4 separate regions of the Homo sapiens genome follow, and regions 1, 2 and 3 are each linked to region 4. The links come from fine-mapping of genetic effects on gene expression. A gene starts in region 4. Each other region holds a variant in brackets. All regions are shown on one strand. Distances are between the middles of the regions. Region 1 overlaps CHFR (checkpoint with forkhead and ring finger domains). Region 2 overlaps GOLGA3 (golgin A3). Region 3 holds the start of ANKLE2 (ankyrin repeat and LEM domain containing 2). Region 4 holds the start of GOLGA3 (golgin A3).

The links.
Region 1: its variant is fine-mapped to the expression of GOLGA3 in whole blood (TOPMed, PIP 0.99).
Region 2: its variant is fine-mapped to the expression of GOLGA3 in whole blood (TOPMed, PIP above 0.99). The same link has a PIP of 0.9 or more in breast, esophagus mucosa, esophagus muscle, fibroblasts, gastroesophageal junction and left ventricle.
Region 3: its variant is fine-mapped to the expression of GOLGA3 in nasal epithelium (TOPMed, PIP 0.94).

The regions. Positions count from the first base shown.
Region 1 is chr12:132,856,161-132,863,613 of GRCh38, forward strand. It overlaps CHFR (checkpoint with forkhead and ring finger domains), which reads right to left. Exons shown (of 18, transcript NM_001161346.2): 7 at 5,307-5,474; 8 at 2,908-3,067; 9 at 1,245-1,399; 10 at 308-470. Among named protein-coding and RNA genes, the nearest start is that of CHFR, 28 kb to the right of the region's middle. RefSeq lists an enhancer at 395-1,594. The variant C/T (reference allele first, on the strand shown) is at 3,115.
Region 2 is chr12:132,770,809-132,776,443 of GRCh38, forward strand. GOLGA3 (golgin A3) reads right to left here. Exons shown (of 24, transcript NM_001389683.1): 22 at 4,333-4,497; 23 at 3,349-3,512; 24 at 1-2,486. The coding sequence ends at 2,297. Among named protein-coding and RNA genes, the nearest start is that of ANKLE2, 12 kb to the left of the region's middle. RefSeq lists an enhancer at 994-1,193. The variant C/G (reference allele first, on the strand shown) is at 2,226.
Region 3 is chr12:132,758,127-132,765,579 of GRCh38, forward strand. ANKLE2 (ankyrin repeat and LEM domain containing 2) reads right to left here and starts at 3,706. Exons shown (of 13, transcript NM_015114.3): 1 at 3,492-3,706. The coding sequence starts at 3,672. RefSeq lists enhancers at 3,052-3,920, 4,275-4,374 and silencers at 3,155-3,744, 3,835-4,124. The variant G/A (reference allele first, on the strand shown) is at 4,401.
Region 4 is chr12:132,824,914-132,832,366 of GRCh38, forward strand. GOLGA3 (golgin A3) reads right to left here and starts at 3,956. Exons shown (of 24, transcript NM_001389683.1): 1 at 3,890-3,956. CHFR (checkpoint with forkhead and ring finger domains) reads right to left here. Exons shown (of 18, transcript NM_001161346.2): 18 at 7,443-7,453. It also overlaps the pseudogene RPS11P5. RefSeq lists silencers at 3,234-3,333, 3,834-3,893, 4,264-4,473 and an enhancer at 4,044-4,183.

The DNA of each region.
Region 1 (7,453 bases), 31 kb after region 4:
GTCGAAGCAAAGGGAAGGGTGTCAGCCGAGGGTGCAAATGTCTACAGCAGTCGCCTGCGGCTGACGCTCTGCTGGCTACCCCCTGGCTACCCCGCTAAGTGTTCACCCAGTCCCTGCCACGCCTCTCAGGGGAGGTGCTAATACTATCCAATATCAGAAAACAAGCTCAAGCCATTTAAGAGCTTGGCTGCTCAGGGCAGAACTAGATCTCAGGACCCATGCTGTCCACCCAGTAGTGAGCTCTCGGTCACGGTTGTGATGCTCCTCTGGCTCACACACTCTGCTCTGAGCCAGGGGCATGATTTACCTAATGTCTGAGGACTCACTGTCAACGTCTGACAGCTCCAGCAGGTCCTCTGAACTCCCTTCTTCATCAGAAAAAGACCGCCTGACTTTGGGCTGCAGCATGTCTTGAGTGATTTTATTTCTGGCATCCATACTTTGCACATCTTCTTCACTGCGACTCTTGTCTAGAATTGAAAGGACACAGCGCCATTCACCGGCAGTGAGACATGGCAGGCAGACACAGCTCACACTGCTGGGAGCTCGCGTGCGCAGTGCTGCGGAAGGAGGGGTCTGGGCGGACCGCCCTCACGTGCCCGGGTGCTGGTGGAGGGACTGCCCTCACGTGCCCAGGTGCTGGTGTGGATGCCCTCACGTGCCCGGGTGCTGGTGGAGGGACCGCCCTCACATGCCTGGGTGCTGGTGTGTGGATGCCCTCACTTGCCTGGGTGCTGGTGGAGGGACCGCCCTCACTTGTCTGGGTGCTGGTGGAGGGACCACCCTCGCTTGCCCAGGTGCTGGTGGAGGGACCACCCTCACGTGCCCGGGTGCTGGTGTGGATGCCCTCACGTGCCTGGGTGCTGGTGGAGGGACCACCCTCACGTGCCCGGGTGCTGGTGGAGGGACCACCCTCACGTGCCCGGGTGCTGGTGGAGGGACAGCCCTCACGTGCCCGGGTGCTGGTGGAGGGACAGCCCTCACGTGCCCGGGTGCTGCTGGGTGGATGCCCTCACGTGCCCAGGTGGTGGTGGAGGGACCGCCCTCACGTGCCTGGGTGCTGGTGTGGATGCCCTCACGTGCCCGGGTGCTGGTGGAGGGACCACCCTCACGTGCCCGGGTGCTGGTGGAGGGACAGCCCTCACGTGCCCGGGTGCTGCTGGGTGGATGCCCTCACGTGCCTGGGTGGTGGTGGAGGGACCGCCCTCACGTGCCCGGGTGCTGGTGTGGATGCCCTCACTTGCCTGGATGCTGGATGAGGTATGCTTCCACGAGGTTGTTGAGGATGTGGTTTTTACAGATCCGCTCCACGGGACAGCGGCAGGTAGGACACAGGGACGAGCGCTCCATCCAGCCCGAGTAGCAAGCCGCGCAGAACGTGTGCATGCAGGGCTGCAAACTGAAAGTGCAAGAGGAACAGTGTCCAGACAGTCCCACAGATGCAACCGCGACCCTCGACCAAGGTCCGCAGCAGCCCCACCACGGAAGGGCCTACAGGGGCCCAGCCATCGTTCAACCTAAAAACCCTTTAAGTCAGTCTTGGTTAATGAAAAGAAATCAGAGGCCACACGGCCTCTGTGTTTTCAGGAAAGACAGAGGCGAGTAGATTATGACTTCAGGAACACAAACAACAGAGACAGCAAGTGTTTCTGGCCCAGAAGTTGGAAGGTTGTCACTCTTGAGTTCCCGCGGAAAAGCAAGGAGGCCCTTCCTCAGCGGCTCCTACGTTCATTCTATGCGAAATACACCTTCCCAGATAAGGAGCATTTAAAATGTGCAGAGTTCCTTTCATCTGTTTGCAGAGTTCACGGGGTCACACACGACCCACACACTCAAAACTTGTGGGGTCTACAGCCTCCGGCTCTGGGTTCCAGGTTTCCTCCTTGTTGGTGCCACGAGTAGAATGAAAGTGGTAGCCATGCGGGGTGGCTCACGTCTGTAATCCCAACACTTTGGGAGGCCAAGGTGGGCAGATTACCTGAGTGCAGGAGTTCGAGACCAGCCTGGCTAATATGGTGAAACTCCCGTCTCTACTAAAAATACAAAAAAATTAGCCAGATGTGGTGACGCATGCCTGTAGTCCCAGCTACTTGGGAGGCTGAGGCAGGAGAATCACTTGAACCTGGGAGGTGGAGGTTGCAGTGAGCCAAGATCACACCACTACACTCCAGCCTGGGTGACAGAGCGAGACTCTAACTCCAAAAAACAAAAACAAAAACAAAAAACCACCCCGGGCTACATGGCGAAACCGTCTCTACAAAAAACACAAAAATCAGCAGGGTGGCTGGGAGTAGTGGCTCACGCCTATAATCCCAGCACTTTAGGAGGCAAACGTGGGCAGATCACCTGAAGTCAGGAGTTCAAGACTAGCCTGGCCAACATGGTGAAACCCTGTCTCTACTAAAAAATACAAAAAAATTAGCCGGGCATGGTGGCACACGCCTGCAGTCCCAGCTGCTCAGGAAGCTGAGGTAGGAGAATCGTCTGAACCCGGGAGGCTGAGGTTGTAGTGAGCCAAGACTGTGCCACTGCACTCCAGCCTGGTGACAGAGCGAGACTCCATCTAAAAAAAAAAAAAAAAAAAAAAAAAAAAAGGAATAAAAAATATTTAGAACATTAAAAAAAAAAAAAAAGTCAGCCAGGCATAGTGGTGTGCACCTGTAGTCCCAGCAACTCAGAAGGCTGAGGTCAGAGAACCGCTCAATCCTGGGAGGGAGAGGTTGCAGTGGGCTGAGAAAGCTCCACCCACTCCACCCACTCCACCCACTTATCTGGGTGACAGAGTAACCTCAGCAGATGCCAGGCCAAACAGGACCTGCAGGCTTGTCTCATGCCCAGCCCTGCCCCACACGGGACGAAGAACCTGCAGTGCCATGTTCCGTGAGCCAAGGGTGAACACGGTCGCACCTCACGCAGTCGTGCAGCAGGTCCTGGCAGATGATGCATGTCAGCGTCTCCTCCATCTTGTCTGGCTTCCCAGCCGCTGCTCTGACGTCCTCGTGGACGGTTTGGGCATTTCTACGCGGTTGTGCGACCAACAACTGCCCGTTCAGGTCAAGGTCCCCATCTACAGGAGAAAGGGATGTGTTCTGTCGTAACCAAGAAGGAAATACA[C/T]GCAGGTTCAGGTCAAGGTCCCCGTCCACAGGAGAAAGGGATGTGTTCTAACTGTCGTAACCGAGAAGGAAATACATGCAGTCTTTTTTTTTTCGAGACAGAGTCTCGCTCTGTCGCCCAGGCTGGAGTGCAGTGGCGCGATCTCGGCTCACTGCAAGCTCCGCCTCCCGGGTTCATGCCATTCTCCTTCCTCAGCCTCCTGAGTAGCTGGGACTACAGGTGCCCACCACCACGCCCGGCTAATTTTGTGTATTTTTAGTAGAGACAGGGTTTCACCGTGTTAGCCAGGATGGTCTCAATCTCCTGACCTCGTGATCCACCCGCCTCGGCCTCCCAAAGTACTAGGGTAACAGGTGTGAGCTACCGCGCCCCACCCTCTTCTGGTGTTTTTATTTTTCTATAATGCTCAGATGTTGGTAATCAATTAATTTTTATTTTTAATTAAAGAAACTGTACACAATTTAAAAAGCCAAGTATTTAGAAGAAGCCAGGTGCAATGGCTCACAACTGTAATCCCAGCACTTTGGGAGGCTGAGGTGGGCAGATCGCTTGAGCCCAGGAGTTCAAGACCAGTCTGGGCAATATAATGAAACCCCATCTCTAAAAAAATGGGAAAAAAAATTAGCCAGCTATGGTAGCGTGCACCTGTGGTCTCAGCTACTCGGAAGGCTGAGGTGGGAGGACAGTCTGAGCCCAGGAGGTGGAGGCTGCAGTGAGCCAAGACTGCACCACGGCGCTCTGGCCTAGGTGACAAAGCAAGATCCTGTCTCTTAAAAAAATGTATACATAATATATTTAGAAGAAAACAAAGGCAGTCACCCTCCGTCTCAGCCGCTCCTCACCCAATTTCCCTCCTCGGAGGAAAACTATTTTCATGTCTTTGAGCTGTTTCTTCTGGTATTTACCTCTGTGTTTCTAAGTTATCATGGTACATTTGATTTATCAATTTTAGACATCATTCCTGACATCTATTAAGGTAGAGAAAAACTCTGTCCTGAGACACCCCTGCCAACATTACATTAACAGATTACATTAGTTCATGATACTGTATTTGTATTATTATGCTTATGCAAGTATTCACTGCTGAGCCAAGTAGTTTACTAGATTAAGTTGTGTGACTTACACAATTTTTCATGTTTGCTAGAATTAAAATTTCCTCATTCCTGTGCTTATTTTTCCTGTGTAACTGTTGCTGACTCTTTCCACACCTTCCCCACACCGATCAACCCCACGTGTCAGATAACCTAATTTCTTTCCCTGGGGACCCCTCCTAGAACCTTCCTGTCACAGTGCCCCAGTGGCTGGCTGCTCTCTGGACTGCTATACAGCAATGCTTCTACCATAACATTCCCAAATGTTTTCTAATAATCTTAACTTTGGCTTTCAAAGTGCAGACTTCTCCCTAAATCATCTTCAATGTGAAGATTTAAGCTACATTTTTAGAAATTATTGTCCTACCAGGACAGAGGGCTTTCTTTTTGATTTTCTTTTTTTTGAGATGGAGTTTTGTTCTTGTTGCCCCGGCTGCAGTGCAATGGCACAGTCTTGGCTCACTGCAACCTCCACCTGCCGGGTTCAAGCAATTCTCCTGCCTCAGCCTTCCAAGTAGCTGGGATTACAGGCATGCACCACCACACCCAGCTAATTTTTGCATTTTTAGTAGAGACGGAGTTTCACCATGTTGGCCAGGCTGGTCTTGAACTCCTGACCTCAGATGATCCGTCCACCTTGGCCTCCCAAAGTGCTGAGATTATAGGCGGGAGCCACGGTGTCAGGCTTGATTTTTATTTTTAGAGATAAAGTCTTGCTCTGTCGCCCAGGCTGGTCTCGAACGCCTGACCTCAAGTGATTCTCCTGCCTTGGCCTCCCAGTGTTAGGATTACGGATATGAACTACTGCACCTGGCCAGGAAGGAGGATTTTGAGATTAATTCTGCAATTCAGAATGCACTATTTCCAGACCAAGAGAACAGCCTGTAGCAAATCACAGTTCTATCTGGATTATGCAAACCGCAAAAAAACAGGCCCAGGTTTTCTGAATGAAAATGCCGGAGGTGTTACAGGCATCAACCTGAGGCAGGGTCCACATGCCCCTGCAGGAAGCAATGCCCCACAGCACGGAGCATGGCAGCGGCCCCCGCATGCCCCAGGAGCACACGAGAGGACTGAGGACACACACAACCAGACACTAACCTCCTCTCATTTTCTTCTTCACGGGCTCCAAATCCTCCTGATCCTGGGGTTCCAACGACGAAAAGGACGCAGTCTTTCTGTCTGGGAGAGCTGAGGCAAAGCTGGAGACTTCATCACTTGCCACAGAGGGACCACTTCCTTTAGGGGAGATGCCACCACCCCCAGACCCTGTGAGAGGAATCAAACAAGATAGGTGCTGATCCATCCAGCTCAGGAGAGAACCATGCCTGTAAGGTGTCACTGACTGGAGCCCAGTGCAGCTGGCAGCCTGAGATGTCGTAGTTTAGGAATGACAAGTGGCTTACGAGGAGTGTGTGCTCACTCAACTCACATCTTAACTCTATTTGTGCCTATCTCTACGTGGGGTGGAGCTGGGGGCAAGGAGCCCATTTGCAGAGAAACAAATGCGGAGATGTCTGTGACCAGGCTTAGCCCTCGAGCACCGAGTCTAACGCAGGGCAAACCCACATACCCGTGGTCATATGATACACACTGTGTCATAAACTTGTTACAACAGAGCTTTGGGCCGGGTGCGGTGGCTCACACCCGTAATCCCAGCACGTTGGGAGGCCGAAGCAAGTGGATCACCTGAGGTCAGGAGGTCGAGACCAGCCTGGCCAACATGGTGAAACCCCATCTCTACTAAAAATACAAAAAAATTAGACAGGCGTGGTGGCGAGTGCATGTAGTCCCAGCTACTCAAGAGGCTGAGGCAGAAAAATTGCTTGAACCCGGGAGGCGGAGGTTGCAGTGAGCCAAGATCGTGCCACTGCACTCCAGCCTGGGCAACAAGAGCGAAACTCCCTCTGGGGAAAAAAAAATAAAAATAAAAAATAGAGGTCTGAGGCTGGGCATGGGGCTCACACCTGTAATCACAATACTTTGGGAGGCCAAGGTGGGAGGATCACTTGATCCCAGGAGTTTTAGACCAGCCTGGGCAACACAGCAAGGCACCATCTCTACAAAAAATACAAAAAAGAAAAAAAAATTAACTAGGCGTGACAGTACGAGCATATGGTCCCAGCTACTCAGGAGGCTGAGGTGAGTGGATCACTTGAGCCCGGGAGTTCGAGGCTACAGTGAGCCATGACCACATCACTCTCCCAACCTGCACAACAGAGCAAGACCTCATTTTTTTTTTTGAGACGGACTCTTGCTCTGTTGCCCAGGCTGGAGTGCAGTGGCTCACTGCAAGCTCCGCCTCCTGGGTTGACGCCATTCTCCTGCCTCAGCCTCCCAAGTAGCTGGGACTACAGGCACCCGCCACCATACCCAGCTAATTTTTTTGTATTTTTAGTAGAGACAGGGTTTCACCGTGTTAGCCAGGATGGTCTCGATCTCCTGACCTCATGATCCACCTGCCTCAGCCTCCCAAAGTGCTGGGATTAAAGGCATGAGCCACTGTGCCTGGCCAAGACCTCATTTCTTTTGTTTTCTTTTTCTTTTTTGAGACAGAGTCTCACTCTGTCACCCAGGCTGGAGTGCAGTGGCGTGATCTTGGCTCACTGCAAGCTCTGCCTCCCTGGTTCACGCCATTCTCCTGCCTCAGCCTCCTGAGTAGCTGGGACTACAGGTGCCCGCCACCACGCCCGGCTAATTTTTTGTATTTTTAGTAGAGACAGGGTTTCACCGTGTTAGCCAGGATGGTCTCGATCTCCTGACCTCGTGATCCACCCACCTCGGCCTCCCAAAGTGCTGGGATTACAGGCGTGAGCCACCGCGCCCGGCCTGACCTCATTTCTTAAAAAAAAAAAAAAAATGCCAGGCGCGGTGGCTCATGCCTGTAATCCCAGAACTTCAGGAGGCCAAGGTGGGTGGATCATCTGAGGTCAGGAGTTCGAGACCAGCCTGACCAACACAGTGAAACCCCATTTCTACTAAAAATACAAAATTGGCCGGGTGTGGTGGCACATGCCTGTAACCCAGCTACTTGGGAGGCTGAGGCAGGAGAACTGCTTGAACCCAGGAGGCGGAGTTGCAGCGAACGAAGTTCGCGCCATTGCACTCCAGCCTGGGCAGTAAGATCAAAATTCCGTCTCAAAAAAACAAAGTAAAACAAAACAAACAAACAAAAAAAAACAGAAGTCTGTGTAAAGCACAGATGCTCCAGTGGAGGGATGCATAGCTTCCAACGGGTGGAGATGGTG
Region 2 (5,635 bases), 55 kb before region 4:
ATGTTTAGTAAAGACGGGGTTTTGCCATGTTGGCCAGGATGGTCTGGACCTCTTGACCTCAGGTGATCCACCCGCCTCGGCCTCCCAAAGTGCTGGGATTACAGGCATGAGCCACCGCGCCCGGCCCGATTTCTTGATTTTAAAATTAAAACAAAGGGGTAGTACAGCCAAAATAAATAAGAACGTAAATTGCCGTATTTTTTTTTCTAATGGTACAAGAACAATTTAGTAAATAACATCTTCAACTTAAGATAAAAAGTAGGATATATTTATAATGAAATTTTCAAGTATTATTTCAAAATTAACCCTGTACAAATGATATATTTTGGAAATTCCAATATTTGCTAGAGAATATTTTTTAAATACCAAACATCTTTGTGGTTAATGCTACCTTAACCTTACCAATTAACCTTCTAAAAGTATATTACAACAGAACACAAATAGCTTAAAACACACCATACTGTTTTCTCCACAAAACAGACACCAGACACCGACATGAGCACATCTGGCCTGGCCAGTGACTCAGAACCTCATTTCAGACCAGTACATCTGCAGAGGAGGCCACGCGGACCCATTCTCTCTCTCCTAACTCATATAATAAATATTATTTTAGATTTTCTTAGCAAACTAGGGGACAACTTACAGACCCCACCTCTCCCAGTCAGCCAGTGTCTGCAGGGTTTCAGGATTTGGGGTAGGAAACAGAAGATCTCACACATGTCGTGCTGATTTTAAATAAGGCATCTGTCTCTGAGACACCTGGGAGAGCACAGCCACCTTCCTCACGGTGCCTGCCTGTCTCTTCCGGAAGTCGCCTCTGCTTGCCACATGATGCTGGTGTAACCACAAAAGATCCAGGACTTCTCGATGACTGCAGAAGTACAGGTGCTCCTACACACGAGTACAGGCGCTCCCACAGACAATGGTAAAGATTTTCACTTGGGGAACAGGAGTGTGAGGTTTGTTACCGCCTGCGACCTACACCTGGCTGACTCCAGGGGAAACCGCGGGAGTCGCTGCAGGGAGCCCCTGGTCTGCTCTCCTCCTCCTCCTCCACCGGCCTCTCCCTGTGCCCCCCCAAAGGTCAGATCAGATATGGGGCCTCAGTGTCCTTGTGCCTCCTGATGGCCGTCAGGCCTGACCAAGGGTCCAAGCTGCCCCTTCCCAGTGGCCAGCCACGGTGGAATCACACAGGGCCAGTGGCCTGAGAGGAAGAGACCAGCAGGAAGGAAAGATCCTCAGCAACAAAGTAAAACCAGAACAACAGAGGACCTTTCTGTGTAAGAATATTTGGCTTTAGAAGGTAAATAAAATAATTATATTTCTTAGAATTTTCTGACTATCCCTAAATCCTGCAGGTAAATTATTCCCAACAAATTTTCAAAAGGCAATCAATAATAAGTAGGTTCTTCTTCAATAACATGAGCATATGCTTCTTAAAGACTGGGTGACAGGCCGGGCGCAGGGGCTCACGCCTGTAATCCCAGCACTTTGGGAGGCTGAGATGGGCAGATCACTTGAGGTCAGGAGATCGAGACCATCCTGGCCAACATGGTGAAACCCCATTGCTACTAAAAATACAAACATTAGCCTGGCATAGTGGCGCACGCCTGTAATCCCAGCTACTCGAGAGGCTGAGGCAGGAGAATCGCATGAACCTGGGAGGCGGAGCTTGCAGTGAGCGGAGAGTGTGCCACTGCACTCCAGCCTGGGCAACAAAGCGAGACTCTGTCTCAAAAAAAAAAAAAAAAAAAAAACAAAGATTGGATTATGATATTCAGTATCTATGTACACATCCTATGGTGGGATGGCTATCCAAAAAAACAAGTAAAAAGCCAAAGGTACAGATAAAATTTCATTTCTGCGGAAAAGTAAAGCTCTTACTGAATGGAACAGGGAAGTGAGAAACTGCAGCCGGCCTGGCCAGGCGCGGTGCCGCAGACCCTGTCACACAGCTGCTCCCAGTTACGCAGCCTCTCCCTGTCACCCGCAGAGAGCAGCATCGGTGGCCGCTCAGAAGCCACGACCTACAAGTAACCCTTCAGACACGTTCAAAGCTCCTCGCCGAGAGCCTATCAGGCTTTTAAGAGTTGGTCATTCCATGTGAAAAGCTAATTGTGATCTTCGAATGTTTTTCTAGTCCTTGGCTCTCATTCTGCTATATATTTTACTTCTTGTTAAAGGCAAAACAAAACTTAAATTTCATGTCTTAGAAAAACATCGAC[C/G]ACACAATCAAATAAATAACATTGATAAGAGCCTTCTGGGGCAGCGGCGCACGGAGGCGAGTCCACAGCAGTCACTCTCCCGGCCCTTCTTTGGAAGCCCTGCTCTGACTGTGTCTCTGTGGGTCGCCGCGTGGGCCGGCGTGACCCCCCGGGGGCACAGGGCTGGCAGTGGCTGGCTCCAGCGGCGTCCACGAGGACAGAGACTCGTGCACCGTCAGGGCGTGCTCCTCCATCTGGCGCTGCAGGCTGTCCATCTCCTGCCTGGGACAGAAGAAGGAGGAAGAAGGCCCAGATCACACAAGTGCCAGGCAGAACGCGCCACCTGTGGACAGCGTCACTCGCTAGCACCTGAGTGGACCGGGGCGCCTTCGGGGATCCGCAAACCAACTGAGACCACAGAAGCTCAGCTGTTCTCAGCACCGTTCTCTACACTGTGCAGAGGACACAGGCTCAAGGACCAGTCCTGACCAGGCGGCAGGGTGGAAGCTGTCACTGAGGCCTGGCACACACGACTTCCACTCCGTTACCTGCCCTCGGGGCGCCGCCTGGCTCCGCCCTACACACTTCGCTCAGCCTCAGGCTGCCAGGTGCACCATGTGTGGCCTTCCAGCTTCTCAGGGCCTATCAGGGTAGTTTAACTCCAGGCAGTTTCCACCTATGAGTTCACAGGCTGTGTGTGCGAGTTCCCCCACCTTTATATAAACCTCAGAGGCTGTGCGAGTCCCCCTCCCACTTTATATAAACCGCAGAGGCTGTGTGAGTCCCCCTCCCCCTTTATATAAACCTCAGAGGCTGTGCGAGTCCCCCTCCCCCTTTATATAAACCGCAGAGGCTGTGAGTCCCTCCCCCTTTATATAAACCACAGAGGCTGTGCGAGTCCCCCTCCCCCTTTATATAAACCTCAGAGGCTGAGTCCTTCCCCCTTTATATAAACCTCAAAGGCTGTGTGTGCAAGTCCCTCCCTTATATAAACCTCAGAGGCTATGTATGCGAGTCCCCCACCCTTATATAAACCTGCTGAAACTCTGCTGGGCACTCAGTACTGGCACCAGGAGTGCCCTCCCAGGTAAGAGGGCATTAATCTTTAAGACTAGCTGAAGTGCAGCACGGAATACGGTCGTACTTGAGCTGCTGGAGGCAGCTGTTCAGGTTCTTGAGGGGCTCCTTGCTCACGGCGGGCGGTGGTCTCAGCAGCTCCTCCAGCAGCGAGGCGGGAACTGGGCAGTCCGGGATCTTGATGGGCGTGGCAGGGTTGGAAGAGCTGGCCTCGCCTTTCGGCTCCTTTCTCTGTTTTTAAAAGCACATGATCAGCTTTCCCACCGTCCCCTCCCTCGGGTCAGTCTCACTAGCACAGCTTGTGGCAAACGGGCCTCCCCAACTGGTGGACGTGGGGCCTCTGGGAAGGGGACCGTCCTGGCCGCCGTGGCAGCCCAGCACGACAGTCCCCGGAGCTCCAGAATAGCTGGCTGAGGAAACACCTTTATTCCTAAGGCACAAAACCAGAGCAAAGCAGAGACAACCTAAGTCCTGGGTCTGCGGCAGGACGGGGCCGAGCCACAGACTACAGCTCTCCCAGACGCTTCTCCCATCAGATACTCAAGACCTTGATGTGGAATTTCCGTAAGAAATTAAGTAAGTTTTCCAGCTTAGGCTCCCTTTTCTGGGACTTCAAACTTTTTCCACAGATAAGCACACGACGCTAAACGGCCTCTCAATCCGAGCGCTGCCCTCCCACCTGCCTCCTGGAAAACATGGATGTGGACCGAGCACAGAAAACCGCCGGGCGCCTGGGCACAGCTCCCGGGCCCCAGCCCTTCACACACAGCAGGGACTGCCGAGTCACAGACCACCGCTCATCTGCTTTACAAAGCACATTACAACAAAGTGGTATTTGAATTCACAGAACGAGGAAAACACTGTTGGATGAATGAAACCAGAATGAAATGATTTCATCTGTCACCCCATTACCACTGACTACACAGCAGCTGCTCAGTGTGGGCTCAACAAATCCGTTTATGTCTGAATGACTAACACGTCTGCCAGCCTCCTGTCCGAGAGCATCTACAGCGCACGTCGGCTACCCCGGGAGGGACGCGGGCCTGAGTACCGTCTTGGCCGCGCCGCGGCGTAGGTCCAGCTTGAGCTGCTGGTTCTGCTGGAGCAGGGTCTTCATGTTGTTCTTCAGCTCCGACACTTTTGCCTGGAGCATAAATTTATCCTTCTGGGTCATGGACAGGTCTTCCTGGGCCATCTCCAACTCAGACTTGACGTTCTGTGGAAAATGAAGTCAGATTTTTAAAAGCTAACAGATCTTAAACATCCTGCCAAGATCCGAGTTTGTATTTTCATAGGTTAAGCACACACATGTCCTCCTCGGCGCCATCTAGATGATGCCAGTCCAGGTCCAAAATGCTCAGGACCAGAAGTGTGTCAAATTTTGGAATTTTGAATATTTGCGTTACAACTACCAGCTGAGTATCCACAATCCAAAAATTTGAAATGTTCCAATGATCATTTCCTTTATCATGTTGATGCTCAGAAAGTTTCAGATTTTGGATTTTTGTTCTTGTTTTTTTTAGACACAGGGTCTCACTCTGTCATCCAGGCTGGAGTGCAGTGGTCCAACCACAGCTCACTGCCTAAGTGCTGGGACTACAGGTGTGAGCCACCAGGCCTGGCCAGGTTTTGGATTTCTGGATGATGGACGCTTGTCGGCCTGTGTCTATAAATAAATTCTCACTGTAACTCAAGCCCCTCATTTACAAGGGGAACTTAGCAATTACACTCCTTTCCCGAGCAGTCAAGACCGAACCCTGAGTTCTTTGTTGAGAAGTTTATCGCAAATTGGCAAACTTTTCCCACGCACCCTCCCATTTGCTGTAGTCCATGAAATCACGTTCTTGGTCCGTGACACACAGCGCGGCCAAGGGATCGGAGCCGGCCCAGGCTTCGCCCCTGCCTCTGTCCTGCCGCATGACGTGGACCAGGTGGCTTTGCGAGCGCCCCACTGGACGAGGGCGCCAGCTCCCCGGGAGCACTGCCTGGCCGCAGGCCGCATGGCACAGGAACCAGGGGCTGCCCCAGAAGTGGTGCTCCCGCCTGTGTCCAGCACCTCATACACAGGTACCTGCAGCAGCTGCTGTAGCCCCTCCAGCTCCTTCCTCCCTGCTGCTCCCGCCTGTGTCCAGCACCTCATACACAGGTACCTGCAGCAGCTGCTGTAGCCCCTCCAGCTCCTTCCTGCCCTGCTGCTCCCGCCTGTGCCCAGCGCCTCAGATACAGGTACCTGCAGCAGCTGCTGTAGCCCCTCCAGCTCCTTCCTCCCTGCTGCTCCCGCCTGTACCCAGAGCCTCACACAGGTACCCGCAGCAGCTGCTGTAGCCCCTCCAGCTCCTTCCTCCCTGCTGCTC
Region 3 (7,453 bases), 67 kb before region 4:
GAGCCGGACACGGTGGCTCATGCTGGTAATCCCAGCACTTTGGGAGGCCAAGGTGCATGGATCATTTGAGGTCAGGTGTTTGAGACCAGCCTGGCCAACATGATGAAACCAGGTGTCTACTAAAAACACAAAAATTAGCCAGGCATGGTGGCATGCACCTGTCATCCCAGCTACTCAGCAGGCTAGGTGGGAGAATCGCTTGAACTGGGCAGGCAGAGGTTGCAGTGAGTCTCCAGCCTGGACAACAGAGTGAGACTCCACCTAAAAAAAAAAGAATAAACCCGCGGACGTCGCATTGAAATTGGAAGTATCAGTATGATCACAAGGTCTTTGACAGATCGATGGGTAAAGATGTGAGAAACAGCTAGGTCTGAACACTGGGTTATAATGTTCCATTAACAATTTTTTTTTTTTTGAGATGGAGTCTTGCTCTGTCGCCCAGGCTGGAGTGCAGTGGCACGATCTCTGCTCACCGCAACCTCCACCTCCTGGGTTCAAGCAATTCTGCTGCCTCAGCCTCCCGAGTAGCTGGGATTACAGGTACCTGCCACCACGCCCCGCTATTTTTTTGTATTTTTAGTGGAGACTGCCTCACCATGTTGGCCAGGCTGATCTTGAACTCCTGACCTTGTGATCCACCTGCCTCGGCCTCCCAAAGTGCTGGGATTACAGGCATGAGCCACCGCAACCGGCCAAGTACACAACTTTTGAGACTGGCTTTTCCTATTCAGCATAATGCCCTTGAGATCCACCCACGTGGCAGAGTGGATCGCTGCGGAGTGGCACCCCGGGGCACCCACGTGGCAGAGTGGATCACGCAGTGTGGCACCCCGGGGCACCCACGTGGCAGAGAGGATCGCTGCGGAGTGGCACCCCGGGGCACCCACGTGGCAGAGTGGATCGCTGCGGAGTGGCACCCCGGGGCACCCACGTGGCAGAGAGGATCGCTGCGGAGTGGCACCCCGGGGCACCCACGTGGCAGAGTGGATCACGCAGAGTGGCACCCCGGGGCACCCACGTGGCAGAGAGGATCGCTGCGGAGTGGCACCCCGGGGCACCCACGTGGCAGAGTGGATCATGCAGAGTGGCACCCCGGGGCACCCACGTGGCAGAGAGGATCGCTGCGGAGTGGCACCCCGGGGTATCAGTGTGCAAGTTTAACCATTTGAGTTATTTCAGTTTCTGGTAATTACAAATAAAGTTGCTATGAACATTAAATATGGGTTTTTGTGTGAAAATAGTTTTCATTTGTCTAATAAAAGCTCAGGAATGCAGGGCAGGTTTAACTTCCTAAAAACCTGCCAGGCTGATTCCCAGAGTAGCTGCACCACTTACCGTCCCCACCTGCAATGCACGAGGCCCAGTTTCTCTAAATCTCTGCTGACTATATATATGTATACTATATGTGCTATATGATATACACGTATCATATGCCATGATATACGTATATTATACATCATATATAAAAACATATTTTTATATAAAATAAATCAGTATTTTTTTATTTCAGCCATTCTCAAAACACCACCCTCACCCGCCGCCACCTTGTCCGCAGCTCTGCCTGGATGATGCCGCTGGTGACAGTAACAGCACTCAGAGGTGCTTAACACATACCAAGTGCTGCACTTACCCAACTCCCAAAAAAGCCTAACCAGGTATCACTATCATCCCCATTCCTAAAAGAGCAGGCTGAAAACAGGTTAAGCCCACAGCAATAAGTGGTAGGGCCCGGTGCGATGGCTCACACCTGTAATCCCAGCATTTTGGGAAGCTGAGGCAGGTGGATCACCTGAGGTCAGGAATTCGAGACCATCCTGGCCAACATGGTGAAACCCCGTCTCTATTAAAAATACAAAAATTAGCCGGGCGTGGTGGCAGGCGCCTGTAATCCCAGCTACTCGGGAGGCTGATGCAGGAGAATCGCTTGAACCCGGGAGGCGGAGCTTGCAGTGAGCCGAGATCGCGCCACTGCACTCCAGCCTGGGCCACAGGGCGAGACTACATTTCAAAAAAAAAAAAAAAAAAAAGTGGTAGGGCCGAGACACAAACTCACACAATTGGACAGGAATCCCCACTCAATCATCAGAAAGCACCTCTCCGCAGTGACTAACAGTCTGACAATTTAGAGTAAAAACAAACTCAGTTTCTCCCACTAGTCTTGCAACATGCTTCGGACACCAGGTATGTGGGGATTTTCTCCCCACAAATCACGCAGGTCGTCAGTTCTGCAGTGGACACAGGCTGGGTGTCGTCTGTCATCCTAATTCAGTCATCTATTCTGACAGCGTCTTCCTGGAGATACCAGCAGACCCCCACAGGTTAACGGCTCAGCCCCGCAAGACTGCCCCCCACTTCCAGTGCCCAGGTTGTTTGACCTGCGCTTGGGACCGACGGGGCGTAACCCGGTGACCTCCTCAGGTTGCGGTAATTTGCTAGAGTGGCTCCCGAACTCACAGACATGTTTTACTTACACTTACCAGCAGAGTATAAAGGATTACAAAGAATACAGGTGAAGAGATGCGTGACGTAAAACCGGGGGGAAGCGCTTGGAAATTCAGGGCCTCTCTGGGCACCGCCTCCAGGAACCCCCACGTACTATCTGGAAGCTCCCTGAACCCAGCCCTTTTGGGTTTTTACAGGAACTTCATTTCACAGGCGTGATTCATCAGCCACTGGTGATCAACGCAACCTTCACCCCTCTCTCCTCCCCAGAGGTTGGGGGTGGGGCTGAAAGTCCCCAGAACCTCTAACCCTGCCTTGGTCTTTCCTGCGACCAGCCCCATCCAGAAGCTCCCTAGGGGCTGCCGGCCACCAGTCCACTCAGCCTACAAAAGACATCACTTTGGAGGTTCCCGGGATTTCAAGAGTTGTATGCCAGGAAAAGGGGATGGAGCTGAAATACACAGTTCACTGTATCAGTTACCTCAAACTTAAAACGACCAAAACCCACCTCTGATCTCCACATCACCCAGACCCGACAGTCTACCGCAAAGCAATAAATGGCCACCTTCTCCCTCTTCCTCTGGCCCCAAACCCCTGAGTTACATTTGCCTTTTCCGTCTCTGCCTTATGTTCCATGACCAGTAACCGCAATGGCTTCACGTTCCAAACACATCCGGGACCCAGGGGTTTCCTCCCCGCGCCGCCCTCCTTTGGGCCATCCCTCCCCAGGTCTCGAGAGACCGCAGCAAGAGTCTCCGCTAACGCCTCGCCGGGCCCCCGCCGCCTTCCCCGGAGGCTGCTCCAGGGCCCGGGAAAGCTCTCACCCCCGAACCCGGCGTGGCCCCTCCGCCCCCGGCCCGGGAAGCCAAGTCCCCGCAACTGCCCTTTCCGCGGCCGGAATGGCCTTTCCCGACCGGCCCTGGTTTCCCCGGCCGCCTCGCCCAACTGCTGCCGGCTCCAGGGGCGCGGCCGGGACCCCAGGCCCGAGGAGGGCGTCGGGGCGGGGAAGGGGCCAGGGTGCGGGGACCCAGCGACCGCCTGGGCCTTACCTGAGGCGGGGGCGGCGGCCGCGCTTGGCGGAGGAACTGGGGTCCCGCTGCGGCCCAGACCTCCCGGCCGCGGGCCCAGCCGCCGCACCAGCCACCGCACAGCGATCAGCAGCACCGAGGCGCCCAGCAGCTCCCAGGCCAGCGCCGCCCACTCGGCCGCCGCCAGCCGCGGCCACAGCATCGCCGCCGCCCGGGCCGCAGCCGCCGAGAAGCCCGCGCCCCGCGCCGCGCCCGTCCCAGGACCCCGCGCCGGGCTGCCCGCGCCCTGCCTGACGGCGCCGCGCTCGAGGCGGCCGGGGCGGCGCGGGGGACACGGACGGCGGCCCCGCTCGCGGAGGCCCGGCGAGGGCGCGGCCCCGGCCCTGGGACCCAAGCGGGCGGGAACGGGCGAGCGGACGGGCGGGCGCGGCAGGCGGGGCGCGGGCAGCCCGACGCGGGGTCCTGGGACCGGCGAGGCGCGGGGAGCGCAATGTGCTGGCGGGGGCCGGGGCTGGGGCCCGGGGAGGCCACCAGGGCGGGGCCGGGCGCGGGGCGGCGCTTCTTCGCGCCTCCCGGCCCCGGCCTGGCGTCCGTGGGGCGCTGTGCGTCTCCGAGAACGAAGCGGCCTCCGGGTTCGTGTGCTCCGAGCCCGAGTACTGTTTGCGGCCGTCGTCCCGTCCTGGAGCAGGAGTGAGGAAGCGCCTCTCACTCCCCCGCGAACCCGCAGAACAGGCCGCCGGCGCTATGGAGACCGGCGGAGCTTCCCGCTCCTTCACCAAGGGGCCCTGACGCGCAGTTGAAAGCGCGGATTTTGCCGGGCGCGGCGGCTGCGTCCGGAGTCCCAGCGCCTTGGGAGGCGAGGCGGGAGGATCCCCACGGCCCGGGAGCTCGAGACCAGCCCGGGCAAATATTTTGAAAGTCATGGTAAAA[G/A]CCGCAATTACTTTTGCACCAACCTAATAGTGAGACCCTGTCTCGAAAAAGGGAAGGAGGATTTTACTGTATGTAATTTAGATGTTTTATTTATTTTTTGATGCGGTGTCTTGCTCTGTCGCCCAGGCTGAAGTGCAGTGGCGCGATCTCGGCTCACTGCAGCCTCCGCCTCCTGGGCTCAAGCGATTCTCCTGCCTCAGCCTCCCAAGTAGCTGGGATTACAGGTGCCCACCACCACGCCTGGCTAATTTTTGCATGTTTAGTAGAGACGGGGTTTCCTCATGTTGGCCAGACTGGTCTCGAATTCTTGATGTCAAGTGATCCACCAGCCTCGGCCTCCCAAAGTGCTGGGATTACAGGCGTGAGCCACCGCGCCCCGCCTAATTTAGATATTATTAAATGAAAATGAAAGACCTGAAAAATATAATTGATATCCTTGGTTAAAAACATAATTGATCTGAGCGAGGTGGCTCAGGTCTGTAGTCTCAGCAACTCTGGAGCGTGAGGGGTGATGGTAGTTTCAGTCCGGGAGTTCGAGGCTGCCATGAGCGTGATCTCGCCTGTGAATAGCCACTGCACGCCAGCCTGACCAACATAGCAAGACCCCATCTCTTAAAAAATATCATTGGATGGTACTAATGGTTGGTTGGGCACTACAGAAGAAAGGGTCAGTAATTTTGAAGATGGATGAAATGGAAATTCAAACCACGATGAGATGCTGCTTGAAATCCACCAGAATGGCTAAAATTTAAAAATTGGCAATATCAAATTTTGCTGGCAAGAGCAAACACTGAGTTAACCACCTTGGAAAATAGTGAGGCAGTTTCTTTCAAAGTTAAACGTACACCTCTGCTGTATTCTGAGTGTCTGTCCCCAGCGTTCGTATGTTGAAACCCTAACCCCCCTTGGCCGGGCGTGGTGGCTCACGCCTGTAATCCCAGCACTTTGGGAGGCCGAGGCGGGCAGATCACGAGGTCAGGAGATCGAGACCATCCTGGCTAACACGGTGAAACCCAGTCTCTACTAAAAAATACAAAAAATTAGCCGGGCATGCTGGAAGGCACCTGTAGTCCCAGCTACTCGGGAGGCTGAGGCAAGAGAATGGTGTGAACCCGGGAGGCGGAGCTTGCAGTGAGCCAAGATCGCGCCACTGCACTCCAGCCTGGGTGACAGAGCGAGACTCTGTCTCAAAAAAAAAAAGAAACCCTAACCCCCAAGGTGATGGTATTAGGATGTGGGGCTTGTGGGAGGTGATAGGTCATGGGACAGAGCCTTATATACTTCCCTTAGAAGAGGCCCAAGAAGGCTGGGCACGGTGGCTCACACCTGTAATCCCAGCACTTTGGGAGGTCGAGACAGGAGGATCGCTTGAGCCCAGGAGGTGGAGACCAGCCTGAGCAATATGGCGAGACGCTGTCTGTGCTAAAAATTTAAAAAATTAGCTGAACGTGGTGGCACACGCCTTGAGGAGGGAGGATTACTTGAGCCTGGGAGGTCAAGGCTGCAGTGAGCGAAGATTGCGCCATTGCCCTCCAGCCTGGGAGAGAGAGACCCTGTCTCAAAAATAAATAAATAAACAAGTACGTACATACATACATAAAAAGGTAATTATGTAAGTCCTCGTTACGGAGCCTCCATACATGAAGGGCTTTAGAGCCGATTTGTTAAATGGTCAGCTGTAGTCAGCTGTTGACACCCAGCGTCCACTCTCCATTAAGTTATTAAGAGCTTTTTCTTAGTTACAGAAGCTCTCAGTGGGCTGTGGAGACGCTGCCGTCTCCTGAACACATCCAGCGACCACATGACTAAGCAAAGGCAGCGGAGAGTGGACGGACGGTGATGGACGCGGCCACGGAGCCCAAGCGCCCACAATGCGCATTCCTGTCTTTTCTCTCCCCGCTCACCTCAGAGCGGGACGGAAGGTGGGACTGGGAGAGCTGTTCTCGGGCAGGTGGACGCTGTGGATTAGCGGAGAGGGAAGGCACTTTCGTTCTCGGCACCGTGAGGCTGTCCTGGTCAATCCTGTTTTCATGCTTGAGGGTCTCTGGTGCAGCAGCTCCACCAGCCTTGACACCAGGACTTCTGTGGAATCCAGGTAAGCAGCCAGGGTCCTGATAGGGCCATGCCCTCACCCCCATGTAATGCATCCACTCCCAGTTAAATGAGAAAGGAACAATCACAGGAAAACATGGAGAACAACTCCACTGTTCAGAAGCCAACCCTATATTAGCTACTGTTTAGGTAGAAATGAAAAACTTTGAGACGTAAACTCCTGCAGGTAGAAGTAGATTTCCGGTGAATGAACAAAATGAAGCTTATTAGAATCAATGGCCTCTTCTGAGAGCCGTTCTGAATTTTTTTTTTTTTGAGACGGAGTCTTGCTATGTCGCCCAGGCTGGAGTGCAGTGGCGCGATCTCGGCTCACTGCAAGCTCCGCCTTCCGGGTTCACGCCATTCTCCTGCCTCAGCCTCCCCAGTAGCTGGGACTACAGGCGCCCGCCACCACGCCCGGCTAATTTTTTGTATTTTTAGTAGAGACGGGGTTTCACCGCGTTAGCCAGGATGGTCTTGATCTCCTGACCTCATGATCCGCCCACCTCGGCCTCCCAAAGTGCTGGGATTACAGTCGTGAGCCACTGCGCCCAGCCCTGATTTTATTCCTAGTTGTAATTTAACTTCTACTTCATTTCTGATCCGAGATCACAAAGGGGCCATGTGAGCCCCAGGGACTGAGCGGAAGCTGAAGTCTCACAGCTCGAGGATTTACTCCCAACGTGCTGGGAAAAGCCCTAGATGAGCAGGGAGTAGCTAATTTCTTTTCTTCCCCTTCTTTTTCAATATTAATTGGATTTCCTTAAAGGCCGTGTGTCTATTAAGTTTGTTATCAATGGCTATTTAGCACTTGTAGAAACCCAGCCGTATGTTACATACAGTAGGGTCTAGTCAGGAAAACAGCCCAGGCCAAGTGGTTCAGCAGAGGAAATGCAGGGGCAGGGACGGCAACCGCAGGACGCCAGAGGCCCTCAGGTGGAGATAACGGCCCTGAGTGGAAA
Region 4 (7,453 bases):
CCCACCTGGGAATGGAGAAGACACCCACAAAACAAGGGGAGGAGCATCAGCAAAATGATGGCTGCTTATCACAGGCTTGCCCCTTTGACAGATGAATTACAAACTGGCACGGAGGACTACACGCGGTGGAATGTGGACTCGACTGCGCCACTGAATACTGGTACCCTGTACATCTGGTCCTCTTGAAAATTTCCTAGCAAAAGAAAACTTGCGTTTTGCTTTGTGATGTCTTTGCTTCTGCCTTGCGGGGGTGGGGTGATTATATGGAACCGACCGTGTGTGCCTACGCGTGCAGACCCTCCTGGCCCCTCAGGTAAAGGAACCGACGGTGTGTGCCTGCGCGTGCAGACCCTCCTGGCCCCGCAGGTAAAGTGTCTCGTCTACCCCCTCTGCCATCACTGTACCTCACGTGGCCTCCACCACAGCACGTCATGTCTGCCATTGCGTGTGTGCCCATTACATGGCGAGATCCTTGAAGACAGAGACTCATTCCCCGTCTGCCTCCCACCACCTTGAACACTCCCAACTCCTAAAGTGCCAACACAGGTTTAATTTGCCGAATTAAATCTTCAGTTCTGCTGATTCTGCTGAGTACATTCCTCTGCTACAAAGCTAATGGTTCCAAAACAAAATGATTAAGTATTTGAATCCTGGAGCATCAACACTGCCTTTTAAAATACAGCAAAGTCTAAACTAGTCCAGCTGAAACATCTGTGAGCTTCAGTTCCAATGAGGGAGTCCAGGGAGTTAGAAACTGGAAGAGCACCTTTTTTCAGTGGCCGGGAAGATGGCGGACATTCAGACTGAGCGTGCCTACCAAAAGCAGCCGACCATCTTTCAAAACAAGAAGAGGGTCCTGCTGGGAGAAACTGGCAAGGAGAAGCTCCTGCGGTACTACAAGAACATTGGTCTGGGCTTCAAGACACCCAAAGAGGCTACTGAGGGCACCTACATTGACAAGAAATGCCCCTTCACTGGTGATGTCTCCATTCGAGGGCGGATCCTCTCTGGCGTGGTGACCAAGATGAAGACGCAGAGGACCACTGTCATCCGCCGAGACTACCTGCACTACATCCGCAAGTACAACCACTTCGAGAAGCACCACAAGAACATGTCTGTACACCTGTTCCCCTGCTTCAGGGACGTCCAGATCGGTGACATCGTCACAGTGGGCGAGTGCCGGCCTTGCCGGCCTCTGAGCAAGACAGTGCACCTCAACGTGCTCCAGGTCACCAAGGCTGCCAGCACCAAGAAGCAGTTCCAGAAGTTCTGAGGCTGGACATCAGCCCGCTCCCCACAATGAAATAAAGTTATTTTCTCATTCTCCAAAAAAAAAAAAAAAAAAGAAACTGGAAGAGCAGCATCACGGCCACGGCCCAGACAGGCACCACCACCTGAACAGAAGGAAGGATGGGATGACCAGCAGGACTGGACTCAGCCATTACAGGTGGAACATGCAGAGGAGAACTGCTGCAGAGGAGAACTGCTGCAGAGGCCCACAGTGACGACGCCTGGGCCTTACACTGACCAAGAAGGAACACAGCCAAAGACGCTCAGGTTCCACCGAGAGGGCACGCCAACATGGTGACAGCCAACCGCACCGAGCTGAGTCCAGTGCAATCACAGATTCTGCTCACTTAATTCCCCTGCTGGTGTCCAAGCAGCCCACCTCTCCAGAACAGAGACCCCATGACGGTGACTGTAAGTCACAAAGACGGCCCCTCTTTACAGGCAGCTCCTCCTGAAGCCGGACCAGAGAGAGAATTCACTAACTGCCTGGAGTTTGGTGACAGTGATACTTCTCCCTGTAGGGCAATAAGCTGGCAGTCTCGGTCGATTCCCAGTCTTGCTTGATTTTTAGTTAAAATTTGGAATGACTCAGTCGTCAGGGCCTCATTACCTCAGACTACTGACAAAAAGCGATCTCCGGGCAGCGAGGAGGAGGAGCAACTGCCAGTGCATCACAGAAAGCTGGTACTACAAACATGGCTCTATTTTAAATAAAGAGGCCAGTCTAATCAGTCTCACTTATGATCACTCGCACTCCTGCGTCTCTAGAGAGAAGAGACAGGACAAAGCTGTCACTTAGAACTGCGAAAGGTACACACAACCCTAGGTTCACAGCTGGGTAACATCAAGGGACTTCATACTGAGAAACCACCACCTCAGGCACCTACAGGACTTTCTGCTTCCCCCACACCTGAATTCTGTATACAAACATTCACGGCTCCATCTACACCACCTCGTTTCACCTGTTCCTATCGGGTATTAGAAACAACAGAGCACAGCCAAAAACCAAACACGATTTCCTCAGGAAAAGAGTACCTGGTGGAGGCCACACTAGTATCCAAAAGTAAACACAGATCTATACACAAAGTGAAAACCAAAAGCAAGCAAGCCTCATGTCACTGCAGAGACGTGAAGGGCAGGCTTGGAAGTCAGGACTCCGGCCTCAGCTCCCGACCCTCCACCACTTACCTGTGAGAGCCTGGGCTAAAGATTTCTTAATCACATTTAGCCTGTTTCCTCACCAGTAAAACAATGAGAAAATGAACGCAAAATTTTGCCAGGATTAAATATAACAAGGCACAGAGTCTGTCCCGTGTCCTCAATAAAATGACAGTAATTATCACGATTTTCCCTTTAGTTGTTGCTTGTCAAAATCGCTAAAAGCCAACTGAAGGCATTCTCACTTGGGAAAGTATGCTACTTCTTAAGGCAATCGGGGGAAAAAAAGCTCCTCTTCAATCTGAGTGATGTCAGATGATTTATTTCCTTCTTGCCATTTAAGGTATACTGCCTGAAAAGATATTAAAGGGTTATAAAGCGCTATGTTGATGTCGTTTAAAAGACAGTTCAAAATAATCCACGACGACGGGTGTGGCTGCTCACACCTGTAACACCAGCACTTTGGGAGGCTGGGGTGGGAGGATCGCTTGAGGCCAGGAGTTCCACACCAGCCTGGGCAATACAGCAACACACCCAGTCTCTTAAAAAAAAAAAAAAAATCCATGAGTCATCTGTAAATGGCTTACACTGGCCCAGTGACAATAAACTCCAACCTCTTAAGAATCCAGCACCTGCCTACACCAACATCCTTACCGCCATCGCTTTCCCCCTTTGCCATTACACTGTGGCCACATCCTCCGCCCTCAGGGTCTTCAAACTTTCTGCCTGAGGCGCGCTTTTCTCACAATTTTGCCTGGCTTGCTTCTCGTCATAGAGGCCTTAGCACGGAAGTCGCCCGCCCCCCAGGCTCCCACTTAGAGTAGCGGACCCCACCCAACCACCGCCCGGTACCCTCTCGCTGGCGACCCTGGGTGTCCCTGTCCTAGGTGGGCTCCGCGGGGGCAGTGACCCAGACCCACAATACCCAGGACCCGCCACACGACTGACATTCGTCGGGTTCATACCCGTGACAACGCCCGGCCCCACTCGCTCTGGCCACCTGGAATGAAGACAAGTCGGCCAGCGACAAAGACAAACAAGGAAGTACACGGACTCCTGAAACCCCGACTTCCCACGAACCACCCGACACCATGTCACGCCTTTCAGCTGCAAAGGGCCAGGCTAAAGCAAGCACTGCCCGAGTGGTGGCAGTGGACAGCTTCGGGACAGGCCGCGCTCGTCGGGCGCAGACAAGCATTCAGGAGGGCTCGCGGGCACCGGCATTTACAGAGCCAGCTCCGCCGCAGCTGAAGGCGGGCGCCCAGGCCCGAGGCCACCGCAGCGAGGCGGGGGTGACTGGAACGGGGCCGTCCCGCCACGCTGCAGGGACGCGCCCAGGCCCCGCCGCCGCCCCTCGAGCCTCCCCCGCCCATGCACTGCGGGAGCGGGAGCGGGAGCGGGAGCCCGAGCCCCGAGGCGCCGCGGCCTCCGAGCCCCTCACCCTGCTGCTCTGGCAGCCCCGGAGGCCGCCCGGCCCGGATGCTCCGGCGGAGACGTGGCCGTGAGAGGGGCGGGGCGAGCGGTGCATCGGCCTCGGGTCCCCGGAAACAGCCTGCACGCGCTACTTTCGTTCCGGAACAGAGAACGTCCTCCTCTTCTTCAAGTGGCCACCCTAGGGCCGGGGACCCTCTGCCCACAGGGTCCGGATCGAGCTCACCTCCGACTGTGATGAGGCCGCCTTCAGAAAGTGACCTTAAGAGTTTGCGGACCTTTCCCTAGTAGAAACGCAACTTCCGGAACTGCAGGACCAACTCTTTCAGGAAGCTGAACCGAGCTTCCGGCGGAAGTGGCGTGGCCGGGGCTCGGCATGGGCGCGGCCGAGCTCGGTGTGGGCGTGACTTCCCCGCCCGCCCTAGTCGGGTCCCCGCCCCAACCCCGCACCTCCACCCGGCCGGCGCCCTTCGCGCTTCAGGTGCCAGATCAAAGGCGACGCTGCTTTGGACCCTATTTGCTTCCCCTTTAAAAAGGGCAAAGCTGGACGGCGCGGGCCGCTGGCCGCTGGGGAACGGCTTTCCACCTTCCCTCATCCGCCAGGCCGCTCTTCCAGCTGTCAGGAAGGAAATGGCCTGGAGGGCGCCTCGGGGTCCTCTGTGATGTTGCGCTCATCTCTGCGGATTTTGGAATACGCTTCAGTCTACGAAGTTTTCTGGGATTTTGATGGGAACTGCTGCAGATCGTTTGGGGAGCACGGGCATCGCTGACTCGGTCCTTCATCTGCGTCCCTGGTGGCCCCTCCATTTATTTCGGTCTTTTGATTTCTTCCACCAGCATTTTGTAATTTCAGCATACAGATTCTGCACCTTTTAAGTTTATAGTATTTCACATCAAACAACTGTAACACTGCGTTTTTGACGTTTTCCACGTGTTCACTGTTGGTCTACACAAATGTGATGAATTCTATGTTGATTTTCTTATCCTGAGACCTCGCTGAACTCATTAGTTTGAGGGTTCATTTGGTGTTTTGCGGTTGTTGTTGTAAAATCCTTGTATTTTTTACATGGGCCATCATGTTATCTGCAAATGCAAATTCTAACACAAAATGATCAGACTGAGGCGTAAAATATACAACTTTTAGAAGAAAACAGAATTTCTCACATCTAGAGCTTGGGGAAGAGTTCTTAGATCTGACCAAAAAAACACAATTCACAAAAGAAGTTGATAGAGTAAACTTCATGAAAAAATTAGAAACTTTTCACCGGATGCGGTGGCTCACGCCTGTAATCCCAACACTTTGGGAGGCCAAGGTGGGCGGATTACCTGAGGTCAGGAGTTTGAGACCAGCCAGGCCAAATGGTGAAACCCATCTCTACTAAAAATATAATAATTAGCCGGGCATGGTGGCATGTGCCTGTAATCCCAGCTACTCAGGAGGCTGGAGGAGAATCGCTTGAATCCAGGAGGCGGAGAGGTTGCAGTGAGCGGAGATCGTGCCACCAGCCTGGGCAACAGAGCAAGACTCCGTCTCAAAAAAAAAAAAAAAAGCCGGGCACAGTGTCTCACGCCTGTAATTCCAGCACCTTGAGAGGCCGAGGCAGGTGGATCACAAGGTCAAGAGATCAAGACTATCCTGGCCAACATGGTGAACCCTGTCTCTATGAAAAATACAAAAAAATTAGCTGGGCGTGGTGGTGTGTGCCTGTAGTCCCAACTACTCGGGAGGCTGAGGCAGGGGGATCACTTGAACCTGGGAGGCAGAGGTTGCAGTGAGCTGAGATCGTGCCACTGCACTCCAGCCTGGGCGACAGAGCGAGACTCCATCTCAAAACAAACAAACCAACCTTGTGAGAAAGACCACATTAAGAGGATGAAAAGATGAGTTACAGACTGTGAGAAAATATTTTCAAACCACGTTTGTTGAAGGACTAGTAGCTAGAATATATAAAGAACTCTCAAAACTTGACAGTAAAAAAAAATACAATTATTCTGGGCACAATGGCTCATGCCTGTAATCTCAGCACTTTGGGAGGCTAAGGGGGCAAATCACTTGAGGCCAGGAGTTTGAGACCAGCCTGGCCAACATGGAGAAACCCTGTCTCTACTAAAAATACAAAAATTAGCCAGGCGTGGTGACGCACACCTGTAATGCCAGCTATTTGGGTGGCTGAGGCACAAGAATTGCTTGAATCTGGGAGGCGGAGGTTGCAGTGAGCTGAGATTGTGTCACTGCACTCCAACCTGGGTGACAAAATGAGACTCCATCTCAAAAAAAAAAAAACCATACACACACACAAACAGAAGACAAGCAAAAAACATGAAAACACATTTCACTAAAAGGATATATGAGTGGCAAATAAGCTTGTGACCAGGTTCAGCATCACTAGCCATTACAGAAATGCACATTAAGACTATCTTGAGGTCAGGCGCGGTGGCTCAAGCCTGTAATTCCAGCACTTTGAGAGGCCGAAGCAGGTGGATCACCTGAGGTCAGGAGTTCGAGACCAGCCTGACTAACATGGTGAAATCCTGCTTCTACTAAAAATACAAAAATTAGCTGGGCATGGTGGCAGGTACCTGTAATACCAACTACTTGGGAGGCTGAGGCAGGAGAATCGCTTGAACCTGGGAGGTGGAGGCTGCAGTGAGCTGGGATCACACCATTGCACTCCAGCCTGGGTGACACAGTCAGACTCTGTCTCAAAAAAAAAAAAAAAAAAAGACTGCCTTGGGATATTAGTATACACCTATTAGAACAGCTGAAATAATATACAGCAGTGGCAATATGAAATGCTGGGAATAATGTATTCTGGAGTAACTAATCTCTTATACATTGCTGATGGGAACAGCAATAGTGCACCCACTCTGGAATATAGTTGGGCAGTTTCTTCAAAAAGTAAACAATTTTATGACCCAGCAACTGCATTCCTAGACATTGAACTCAGAGAAATAAACTTATGTCTACACAAAAGCCTGTACATTACTGACCCCAAACTGGAAACAACCAAAATGTCCTCTGACATGGTGAAACAAACCATGGACCCCCCACGCCACTCTGACATGGTGAAACAAACCGTGGACCACCCACGCCACTCTGACGTGGCAAAACAAACTGTGGACCACCCACGCCACTCTGACGTGGTGAAACAAACCATGGACCACCCATGCCACTCTGACGTGGTGAAACAAACCGTGGACCACCCATGCCATGGACACTACTCAGCAATAAAAAGGAGCTGACCACTGATGTGTGCAATAACTTGGACGAAGCTCCAAGGCATTACATCCAGGGAGGAAAACATCTCCGAAGGTCTACACTGCATGAACTGTACGATGTGTCCACTTATGTCACAAAATGACAGCATTATAGAGTGGTGGTGGGGTTCGGATGACTAAAAAGGGGTAGATGGAGAGAGATTTTTGTGGTGATGGAACTGTTCTGTATTTTGTGACCGTGGTTACGTGAATGTCCTCATGTGATAAAATGACAGAATGAAGAAAACACTCCACCAAGCTCAGTTTCCTGATTTTCATATTGCACTATCCTAAGGTGTAGCCAATGGGAGAAATA